Regions from separate parts of the Homo sapiens genome. Here region 2 is linked to region 1. Evidence: fine-mapped expression QTL. A gene starts in region 1. The other region holds a variant in brackets. All regions are shown on one strand. Distances are between the middles of the regions.

Region 1 (5,369 bases):
GACCGGGCTCAGCAGGAGTCATCGATAGATGATGTCATTTCAGAAATAAATAAGCCAAGGTTATGAGGCCCCAGAGCAGGGTCAAAACACTCTTCACAGCCCATCACCATCCTCCATCGCAGATACTGGTCTGCCAGAGACATAGGGGTCTGAGCCAGGATCTGCTTCGTTTTACCTTTTTTTGCTCATTCCAGGGGATGAAGGCCACCTGCAGAGTCTGTGACATTCTGCAAGTCACTAAGGAAGGTCCCCAATCCTCATTATGGGCACACCTTTTAGATTCCCCTTTAACTCTCTCCCCTCTCCTGGGTTCTTCTCACTACTTGCCATACTCTTTATCCTAGAATGCCTGCCTCCCTTCTGTTCCTTGTCCTCAGTTCCTGCTACCTTCCCTCTCCCTTCCTTTCTCATCCAAGCTTTTAGAAAGAGTTGCTGGCTCTGTTGAGAGCCTTCTTCAGCCTACAGCCTGAAGAAGTGGAGAACTTCTTCAGCTCCTGTTAGCTCCTGCCTTTCCCCCTCACCACAACGAATACTATCATTGCAATATCAGGCTCTGGGCTGAGGGCTTGCCCTGAATCATCTCACTTAATTCTCACAAGCAGCCCCTATGAAATGGGGCTATTGTTGTCTCCATTGTATGAGGAGAAAACGAGGCTCAGACAGGCTGGGTCACTGGCAGATCTCATTTTTTGAGCCTGCTGCAATACCCTGGTCTAAGTCACTCATGATCCCTGCCAATCCTGATGGTCTTTTCCCAGTCCTCATCCCCCTACTCCTGTCTCTCCACAGCAAGTGACACTGCCCACCTCTGTCCTCCCTTGGCACCTGGGAAAGCCACTGTCTCTCACTCCTTCCCCAGCTCCTCCTTACAGGATGGGTCATGCTAGAAAGGCTTCCAAGGAAGACTCTAAGCCCTCTCCACTCCAGGTCCACTAGAGACCACCTTGTCTGCCCCCTCATTGCTCAAGGTTCCTCTGAGTGGGTGGCAGAGTTGGGGCTGGAGCCAGATATCCTAACCTCCAGGCCAGTCCACCTCCCATTGCTCAGAGCTGCCACACCTACTTTGTGTTTTCTGTTTTTGCTGAGCTGCAAGAAAACGCCCTACCCTGAAGGAGGGAGAAGGTGTGAGACCCTGATAAGGTGGGGCGGAGGCTATTTTTAGAGGACACTGGCTTTCATCTTAGGCTGGGAGAAACTCAAGGGTCAATGACTCTCTAAAACACGGGTTTGTAAGACTAGCTCATTAAAGATAATACACCAAAGTGACAGTATTCTTGTTTTCACTCTGCCTGTTGGTTGTGTGGCTCTAACTGATGGAAACTTTATTATCTGACTCCATTTCCCGTTAATTCTTTTTTCTGTAAGTCTTTGAGATGGCTTTAGAAAAAAACACATAACAGAAAGTAAAGTAGAAGCAAAAAGGAAACTTCAGGATGAGGGCGCTATTGTCCAGACAAGGTAAAGTCCAGAACAGCAGCAGATTCAAGAAGAGGGGGCATTGATCGGGTGCTCCCAGAGCTCCCGGACCTGCCTGAGCAGTGGGAAGGGTGCGGAAAGAGATGGGAAAGGCTGGGAGACTGCAGAACTTCTGGCGTGACCGGCCCTGTGTGACCTTGAGCAGGGGGCTCTGCGGCCCTGCACAGAGGACAAAATGGCAGTCACCTCTGGAAGAAAGATGGGGTGGGGGCCCTAGGGGTTCTCACGCTGAGGGCCCAGCACCTGGGTTCAGGGTCTGGTTCTGCGATTCAGACACGGAGGAGCTTGGGCCAGGTCGTCTCCGAGAGTCTGAGGGCATAGGGCGAGGGCTGGAGACAGGGTCTGTAATAGTAGCGGTGGGTGAAGGGTGTAGGAGGGGGCGGCGCTGCGCAGGTTGGAGGACGCATCATAGGCCCGATATAGACCGGGAAACTGTGGCCAGGGAGCGGCTGTACTGGAACCACTGCCCCTGCCCAGCTCATCGCATCTGAAGCTGCGTGGCTCACAGGCTGCTTTGCCGGCTACGGAGCAGAGAGATGCCCATAGGCACCCCAAAAGTGCACTTCCTAGGGTTGTACGGCTTAGGATATCCGACGGCCTTAGTGAGTCCCAGGATACGATCGAGTCTGGGGCAGTCAGTCTCCGATTTCTGCAGCGTCTCCGCATGTGCGCGGCTGGGACCCCAGCGTCCCAGGCCCGGAGAGGGTGAACAGGTGTGGGGAGCGCAGGCGGCCAAGAGCGCGCCCTGCAGCTCTCAGGGCTTGGGCTCCCAGCTCCATCGCGGCTACCAAACCTCGCCCCTACAAATGGGAGACTGAGATCCAGAAACAAGAGGGGGATTGCCAAGGCCATGCCGAGAGCCGGCGACAACCTGGGGCTCCCGCCTCCAAGCTCTTTCCAGCTCCACTTGGCCGCGTAGCGCGTGTCGTGGTGCTTTAAACCTTGTCTCTCCCAGTTTGGGAAACTTCACCTGCCCCAAACACTCTCAGCGCGAACCTGGGATCCACGTCCAGTCGAGCCTTTACTCCCCCACTCCCACCCCCAGACTCTTGCAGGCGGAGAAGAGGCCGCGCCCCCGAGCCCAGCTCCGGCTGGCACCTGTACCCAGCTGAGCACCCCGCGGGCTCAGAGCCCCGCCGCGCTGGAGTCCTGCGGGTGGCGGGGGCGCCCCTCCGCCAGGACCCCAGCCCGGGGCGCCGTCTCCTCCAGAACCCCGGGTCCTTCTCGCGTTCACAGACGCGGTGCGGAGGTCCAGAGCGGAGGGCGCCCTGGCCAGGGCTGCGCGCGCGGGGAGGCGGGGACGGGAGCGCTGGGCTCGGAACCCCGAGACCCGGGCTCCCTAGCCCCAGAGGCAACCCGAGGCGGCAGCTATTTATAGAGGGAGCCACGCTCAGTCCCTCTTGGCGGCGGCGGCGACAGCTGAATATTTTGCCCAGATATGGCTGAGGCCCCGGAGCGGGGGCAGGGAGCCCCGCGAGCGCGAGGGGGACCCCAGGCGGGGTGGGGGCTTACCCGGACGCAGAGCTGTGGGGCCGGCGCGGACGCGGGCTGCGGAACAGGCGCGGGCGGCGGGCAGATGGACGCGGGCGGAGGCCGCGGTGCTCCGGCGGGCAGCGGGCGGGCGAGCGCAGCGCGGGGCTGGACGAGCTCCCGGGCGGCCGCGGGCGGGCGGGAGCTGTGGGCTCGGGGGTGGGAGCCAGGGGCGGGCCCGGCTCGGCTGTCACCGCGCCCCGCCCCGCCCGCCGCCGGCTCCCTCCTTCCCCCCCCCTCCACTCGGGGGCGCCCGGGCGCAGCGCACTTCCCCGTCGGGACGCGGCCCTGGGCCGGGAGCGCAGGGGAGTCGGGCTGCAGCCGAGCGAGCGCGGGCCCCTGCCTGGGTCTCCTCCGCTTCCCCGCTGGTACCAGGAAGAGTTTGAGCGACGGTAGAGTTATGTGGGAAAAGGTGGGCAGATTTGCATTCCTGTGGGGTTTAGAATTTAAGATTTTGAGAATCTGAAGTCCCCAGAAGTGATGGACCAAAGCCAGCTAAGCAGCTGCTGCACCTTCACCTCTGATTGAAGCGCCGCTCCGTCCGTTTCCCAGCAGCGCGGCCAGGTGGGCTCTGAGCCGCAAGCTTTAACCGCGATCGTTTTGTCTACACGTAGTTCCAACACGCAATCGAATACATTCTCTCTACACTGAGAGCGAGTGGAGTGTCTAAAATACTGATTTTAAATGACCACAACAAAAAGACCCAAGTTCTTAAAAGGCTTTTTTTTTTTTTTTTTTTTTTCAGAACAAACCACTTTAGGTGGTTTATTCCAAATACAATTTTAAGTGTTTTAATAAACAAATGTCTCATGCAAAGGAATTTATATAGAAATAGGAAAACGTCTTATTTTGGATTATTATGGGAAAGCTTTTGGTAGGGTAGACCTTAATAAAATCAGCTCTTAATCCTGATGTATAGATTATTAATGAGAAACACTCATTAACCAAATTTTGTTTCTCAAGAAAATGAATTTCTCTAAAGTCCTCACAATGAGAACGCTCTTTTCAAGGGGTATATGCCATACATTTAAAAATAAGCAGTGATCTAATATTTCAGATTATTTTAAAACATTTTTGTTGTGAATCGAACATATAAGAACATACAACATAAGTTATGTTGTATGTGTAAACAAAATAAATGTGCAGCTTCATGACTTTTTACAACGTGAACACCTGTGCAACCAGTCACTCAGAGAACATTGCCTACAGCCCAGAAGCCAACCTGTCCCTCCTGGGTCCCAACTCCCTTCTAAAGATGATCACTTTCTTGACCCTTACGGTGATCATGTCCTTGTTTTTTTTCTTCCCTCTGTAGTATGTCTTCATTTGTTCAAATCTGTTGTTAATCTGTGGTTTTATGCAGCTGTAGTTTTTCACTGTATGAATATGCCACAGTTTAAAAAAAAATCCATTTGACTATTAATGGGCATTTAGGTTGTTTCCAGGTTTTAGCTATTACAAATAGTGCTGCTGCGAACATTCCTTGCCAGAATCCTCCTGTCCACGCGCACAGCCTGCTGTTGGAAGTGCTGGGTGATAGAGAAAGCCTAACCTCAACTTCGGCAGAGATAAGCCTGAACTCTTCCAAAGTTATAGTACCATTGTACAGTGCAGTTTCCCATCTTCAACAACACTTGAAGTTACAAAAATTGAAACACTTTAGAAATTCTGATATGTGAGTAATGGTATCTCATTGAGGTTCAAACTTGCATTTCCCTATATCCTAATGTGTTGAGTATCACTTCATATTTATTGGCCAGTTGGATTTGTTTTGTGAATTGTTCAGATTTATTGTCCATTTTTCTTCTGGATAGTCCTGTGTATTGAATAGATTCAATGGTGTGTGTATCCTCAGTTATATTCCACTCTTTTGCCTTTTCACCTTATTAACGTATTTTGATAAACAGGTGTTCTTAAATACAGTCTGGCAATCTTTTCCCTTATTGGCAGCACTCTGTGTCCTGTTTAAGAACTCTTTCCTGTTCCTGGGTTATAAAGTTATCTTCCTATGTTATCTTCCCACCTTAGCCTTTCATGTTTAGGTTTTTTGTTTGTTTGTTTTTGTTTTTGTTTTTGAGATAGAGTCTTGCGCTTTGTTGGCCAGGCTGGAGTAAAGTGGTGTGATCACGGCTCATTGCAGCCTCAACCTCCTGGGCTCAAGCCAACCCCTTAACCCCCACATCAGCCCCTCAAAGTGCTGGGATTACAGGCATGAGCCACCATGCCCAGCTATTTAAAAAAATGTTTTTTGTAGAGATAGGGGACTTGCTATATTGCCCAGGCTGGTCTGAAACTCCTATGCTCAAGCAATCCTCCCGCCTCAGCCTCCCAAAGTGCTGGTATTACAGGCGCGAGCCACTGTG
Region 2 (5,369 bases), 73 kb before region 1:
CTGGGTTCAAGCGATGCTCCTGCCTCAGCCTCCTGAGTAGCACCACCACGCCCAGCTAATTTTTGTATTTTTAGTAGAGATGGGGTTTTACCATGTTGGCCAGGCTGGTCTTGAACTCCTGACCTCAAGTGATCCACCCACCTCAGCCTCCCAAAGTGCTGGGTTACAGGCATGAGCCACTATGCCCATCCTCATTATTTTCATTTTATAGGCAAAAAAAATTGAAGCACAGAAGTATTAAGAAATTTTTCCCAAATCCTAGCATGGGTCAGTTGCAGGACCAGGATTTGAATACAGGCAGCGAGCTCTAGAGTCTGTGCTGGTTTCCACCTCACTTAAGTGCCTCTGAGAATGACCAGAAGGCAGAAGTAGGACTGACGAGAGGAACTACACGCAGATGGTGTTTGGCTCAGCATGGAGGAATGCCTCTGACCATTAGAAGTGTCCACACGCTGAGGAACTGCCTGGTAAGGTAGTGAGCTGCCTGTGCCTGAAAGTGTGTAAAGGGGGAGAGACCAAGGGGTTGGTCATGCCCGGACTGGCAACAGTCTCTGGGCAGCAGAGCCAGGGACAGGATGGTTGGGAAAGAACTCTCATACTCCTTCAGATTTGCTTGAGAAGTAAAAAACCACTTGTGAATAAATATAACCACATTATTAACAATTCATATGATATTAACACAGATTGAGTAAAAGGAAAGAGTCTCCCTCACCCGATTTATTCCCAGTCCCACCCCCTTCCGTAGAAGTAACCACCATGGGCCAGGCGCGATGGCTCACGCCTGTAATCCCAGCAATTTGGGAGGCCGAGGTGGGCGGATCACAAGGTCAGGAGATCGAGACCATCCTGGCTAACATGGTGAAACCCGGTCTCTACTAAAAAATACAAAAAAAAAAATTAGCTGGACGTGGTGGCGGGCACCTGTAGTCCCAGCTACTCGGGAGGCTGAGGTAGGAGAATGGCGTGAACCTGGGAGGCGGAGCTTGCAGTGAGCCGAGATCGTGCCACTGCACTCCAGCCTGGGCAACAGAGCAAGACTCCGTCTCAAAAAAAGAAAAAAAAAAAAAAGTAACCATCATGGCCAATGAGTTGTGTTTCTATGCATGAAGTATATGACAGAAATGTACAGGGATTTGTTTTGTTTTGTGGTACTTGTTTCTTGTTTAAATGAATTCATACTATACTTACTGTTCTGCAACTTGCCTTTTTCATTTTATTTTAATATTTATTTATTTATTTTTTTGGAGACTGTGTCTCACTCTGTTGCCCAGGCTAGAGTGCAGCAGCACAAAGCAGTGCAATCATAGCTCACTACAGCTTCTGACTCCTGGGCTCAAGTGATCCTCCTGCTCAGCCTCCCAAGTAGCTAGGACTACAGGCACGTGCCACCATGTCTGGCTAATTTCCTTTACTTTTTTTTACAGAGATGGGGTCTTGCTATGTTGACCAGGCTGGTCTTGAACTCCTGGTCTCTAGTGAGCTCCCTCCTTGGCCTCCCAAAGTGCTGGGATTACAGGCATGAGCTGTCATGCCTAGCCCACCTTTTTCATTTAATATTTTGCAGAGCTCTTTCAGAGTCAGTATGTAGAGAATGACCTTATTCCTTCTATTGGCTTCACGGGACGCCCTGGTGTAGATGGATATTTAGGTTACTTCTGTTTTTTCGTGTTACGAACAACGTGGCAGTGGCAGGGGAGGGAGGGGGTATTCCTCAGGCTTCCTACGGAAATCAAAACTGCTAGGTTGAAAGATAGGCGCTTTCAAATTAAAATTGAGACTGCTCTGACAAAAGGATGTAAAAGTCGGCATGCCCTTCAGCAGTGTGTGACAGCTGTGTGTCCTCACACCTTTACCATGTCAGAGCATTACCCATCAGATGAGAAAGAGATCAGATTTGCTCTTGAACAAAATTACCAACCAACACCTTAGGTGTTACAAGGTGTATCCTGGAGCCGGTGGCTCTGAGGCTCCCTTTCTGGCCAGACGCAACAGGAACATCAAGAATCTCACTTTGGACATTTGACGG[A/G]GCCAATTCTGGCCATTCCCAGATGATATGGACAACTGGGAATACTTCAAAACACAACAGAAAGGAGGCCTGGGAATTAGGTTATCCAACTCCAGAGTCCCAGACCCTAACTGACATTAAAATTCCCTCCATCTCCCAGCTGTTTACACACCCCCAGGATGGGAACTCCTCCCCCTTTGAGATACCTGCTCCATCCTGAGGTAGCTTTGCTAGTTATGTGTCCGGAATTGGTGGGTTCTTGGTCTCACTGACTGCAAGAATGAAGCCGCGGACCCTCGAGGTGAGTGTTATAGTTCTTAAAGGCGGTGTGTCCGGAGTTTGTTCCTTCTGATGTTCGGATGTGTTAGGAGTTTCTTCCTTCCGGTGGGTTTGTGGTCTCCTGGATCAGGAGTGAAGCTGCAGGCCTTCGCGGTGAGTGTTACAGCTCTTAAGGCGGAGCCTCTGGAGTTGTTTGTTCCTCCCAGTGGGTTCGTGGTCTCGATGGCTTCAGGAGTGAAGCTGCAGACCTTCGCGGTGAGTGTTACAACTCATAAAGGCAGTGTGGACCCAAAGAGTGAGCAGTGGCAAGATTTATGGCAAACAGAGAAAGAACAAAGTTTCCACAGTGCGGAAGTGGACCCGAGCGGGTTGCCACTGCGTTATCCGGCAGCCTGCTTTTATTCTCTTATCTGGCCCCACCCATATCCTGCTGATTGGTCCATTTTACAGAGAGCCGACTGGTCCATTTTATAGAGAGCTGGTTGGTCTGTTTTGACAGGGTGCTGACTGGTGCGTTTACAATCCCTGAGCTAGACACAAAAGTTCTCCACCTCCCCACTAGATTAGCTAGATACAGAGTGTGGACACAAAAGTTCTCCATGTCCCCACCAGAGTAGCTAGATACAGGTGTCAATTGGTGCATTTGCAAACCCTGAGCTAGACACAGGGTGCTGATTGGTGTGTTTACAAACCTTGAGCTAGATACAGAGTGCTGATTGGTGGATTTGCCATCCCTTAGCCAGACATAAAGATTCTCCAAGTCCCCACCAGACTCAGGAGCCCAGCTGGCTTCACCCAGTGGATCCTGCACCGGGGCCGCAGGTGGAGCTGCCTGCCAGTCCCGCGCCCTGCGCCCGCACTCCTCAGCCCTTGGGTGGTTGATGGGACTGGGCGCCGTGGAGCAGGGGGCGGCGCTTGTCGGGGAGGTTCGGGCCGCTCAGGAGACCACGGCGTGGGGGAAGCTCAGGCATGGCGGGCTGCAGGTCCCGAGCCCTGCCCCGTGGGGAGGCAGCTAAGGCCCGGCGAGAAGTCGAGCACAGCAGCTGCTGGCCCAGGTGCTAAGCCCCTCACTGCCCGGAGCCGGCGGGGTCGGCCGGCCGCTCCGAGTGCGGGGCCCGCCGAGAGCACGCCCACCCGGAACACGCGCTGGCCCGCAAGCGCCGCGCACAGCCCTGGTTCCCGCCGGCGCCTCTCCCTCCACACCTCCCCGCAAGCTGAGGGAGCCGGCTCTGGCCTTGCCCAGCCCAGAAAGGGGCTCCCACAGTGCAGCGGCGGGCTGAAGGGCTCCACAAGCGCGGCCAGAGTGGGCGCCAAGGCTGAGGAGGCGCCGAGAGCGAGGGAGGGCTGTGAGGGCTGCCAGCATGCTGTCACCTCTCAGTTACAGAGGTCTTTCTGGTCAACTCCTGTGACACAAAATAATATAGATAATTCTTACTGTGATGACTTAATATCTGCAAAATTCTTTGATCCTCCCCCCTCCAAAAAGTGGTGTCTGATTTCTCTCCCCTTGAGTGTGGGTTGTGCTTTGTGACTCACTTTTAATAAACAGAATATGGTGGAAATGACTTTGTGTAACTTCCGAGGCTGGGTCATAAAAGGCATCTGAGGCTTTCTTTTTTCTCTGACTTGGCTCACTCACTCTGGGAGAAGTTAGCTGCCATATTGTGAGGACACTCCAACAGCCCTAGGCCGGGTGCACACGGTAAGGTGCTGAGGTCTCCTGCCCACGCTGTGAGGGAGCCATGGTGGAAGCAGTTTCTCCACCTCAGATCATGCACTCTGGGCGAAGTCAGCCAGCCACACTGCTCCTGGATTCCTGGCCCTCAGAAATGGTGAGTTAATACATGTTTATTGTTTTATGCCAGGATTCTGAGGCTGTTTAAGTTGCTATATTTGGGGATAATTTGTTACACAGCTACAAAAAACTGATACAATCGCAACGTTGAGTAAAAAAAGCCAGACACAAATCATCCAATCTGGGAAAACAAGACAGCACAATCCATCTACTTTAACTTCTCTTCAAAATATTAAGCACATCCTCATTGTCAAATATTGGAATAAAAAGTGGGGAATCTGGCCACTACCCCAGACATTATACATATTCTCATTTGTGGGACTCACCCCAGGCCTTGTCTGGCCTGGGGAGCAGGGTCCCTGGTGCCCTGGGGGTCCTGGGGAAGAGCAGCTCTGTGGGGAGTTTGGAGAGTTTGGTGAGAGCAGCACAGAAGCCGTGTGTGGAGATGGCCTGCTTGGCCTGGGCCGGGCCTGCAGGCTCCCTCGGGGCCCACAGGGTTTCTCCCATCCATCCATCAGTGCAGCCAGGATACTGCAGCTCCAACCGAGCTCTGCCACTAACCTGGCCTGTGGCCTCAGGCTAGTCCCATCCCTTCTCTCATCCTCAGTTTCCCCGCTTGTGAAAGGAGGACTGGGCTAGATGTTGTCTCAGTGCCTTCTGGCTCTGGGGTCTGCTCTGCCCTTTCCCAATTCACCATGGTCTTGGCGCAACCACAGGTGGCAACAGAACATTGCTTGGAGATAGAGAGACTATTTGAGTCAACAAACAGCTTCAAAGTCCTGGTTCCCAAACTGTGTCCTGAGCCAGCTCCGTGTCACCCTGGGCAGAACTCCCCAAGTCCCTTTCCCTGGCCGTATAAGGAGAAAGAAGGACAGAGACTTGCTGCCACAGGTTATAAGCACAGGACTGAGGAAAAAGCTCCCGTCTCCAAGGACCTCGGTGACTAACCAGGAATGAGGAATAAAGGAATAAATCAAATGCCACTCGCCACCTCCTCTGTGTCACACTGCCCTGCCTCCCCCCAGCCTGGGGCTGGGGCACCTGAAGGGGAGGCACAGGTGGCCTCCTCCTGAGCCTGAGTCAGCAGAGCCCCCTCCCTGAGACCTGCCTTCAGCCCTTCCCCTGCCGGACCCAACTCCAGTTAGGCAGGAGCGCCTCCCCACAGCCCCCTGGTCCTGGAGGCCATAGCTCCTGGCTGATCTCCTGGGCCCTGATACCCTCTCCTTGCCCCCAGTCCCCTCCCATCCAGCCAGAACCATCTTCCCAGAGCACAGCACAGCCCACTTTCCC

Evidence for each region. PIP is the estimated chance that this variant, and not a neighbour inherited with it, causes the effect.
Region 2: its variant is the best candidate, but not a certain one, in a credible set for the expression of TMOD1 in monocytes (Fairfax 2014, PIP 0.87).

The regions. Positions count from the first base shown.
Region 1 is chr9:97,499,423-97,504,791 of GRCh38, reverse strand. TMOD1 (tropomodulin 1) reads right to left here and starts at 3,126. Exons shown (of 10, transcript NM_003275.4): 1 at 2,989-3,126. RefSeq lists a cis regulatory region at 1,123-1,140, an enhancer at 1,059-1,203 and a silencer at 2,590-3,309.
Region 2 is chr9:97,572,329-97,577,697 of GRCh38, reverse strand. All of the region lies in intron 8 of TMOD1 (tropomodulin 1), which reads right to left. Among named protein-coding and RNA genes, the nearest start is that of TSTD2, 58 kb to the left of the region's middle. RefSeq lists a silencer at 4,648-4,887. The variant A/G (reference allele first, on the strand shown) is at 2,027.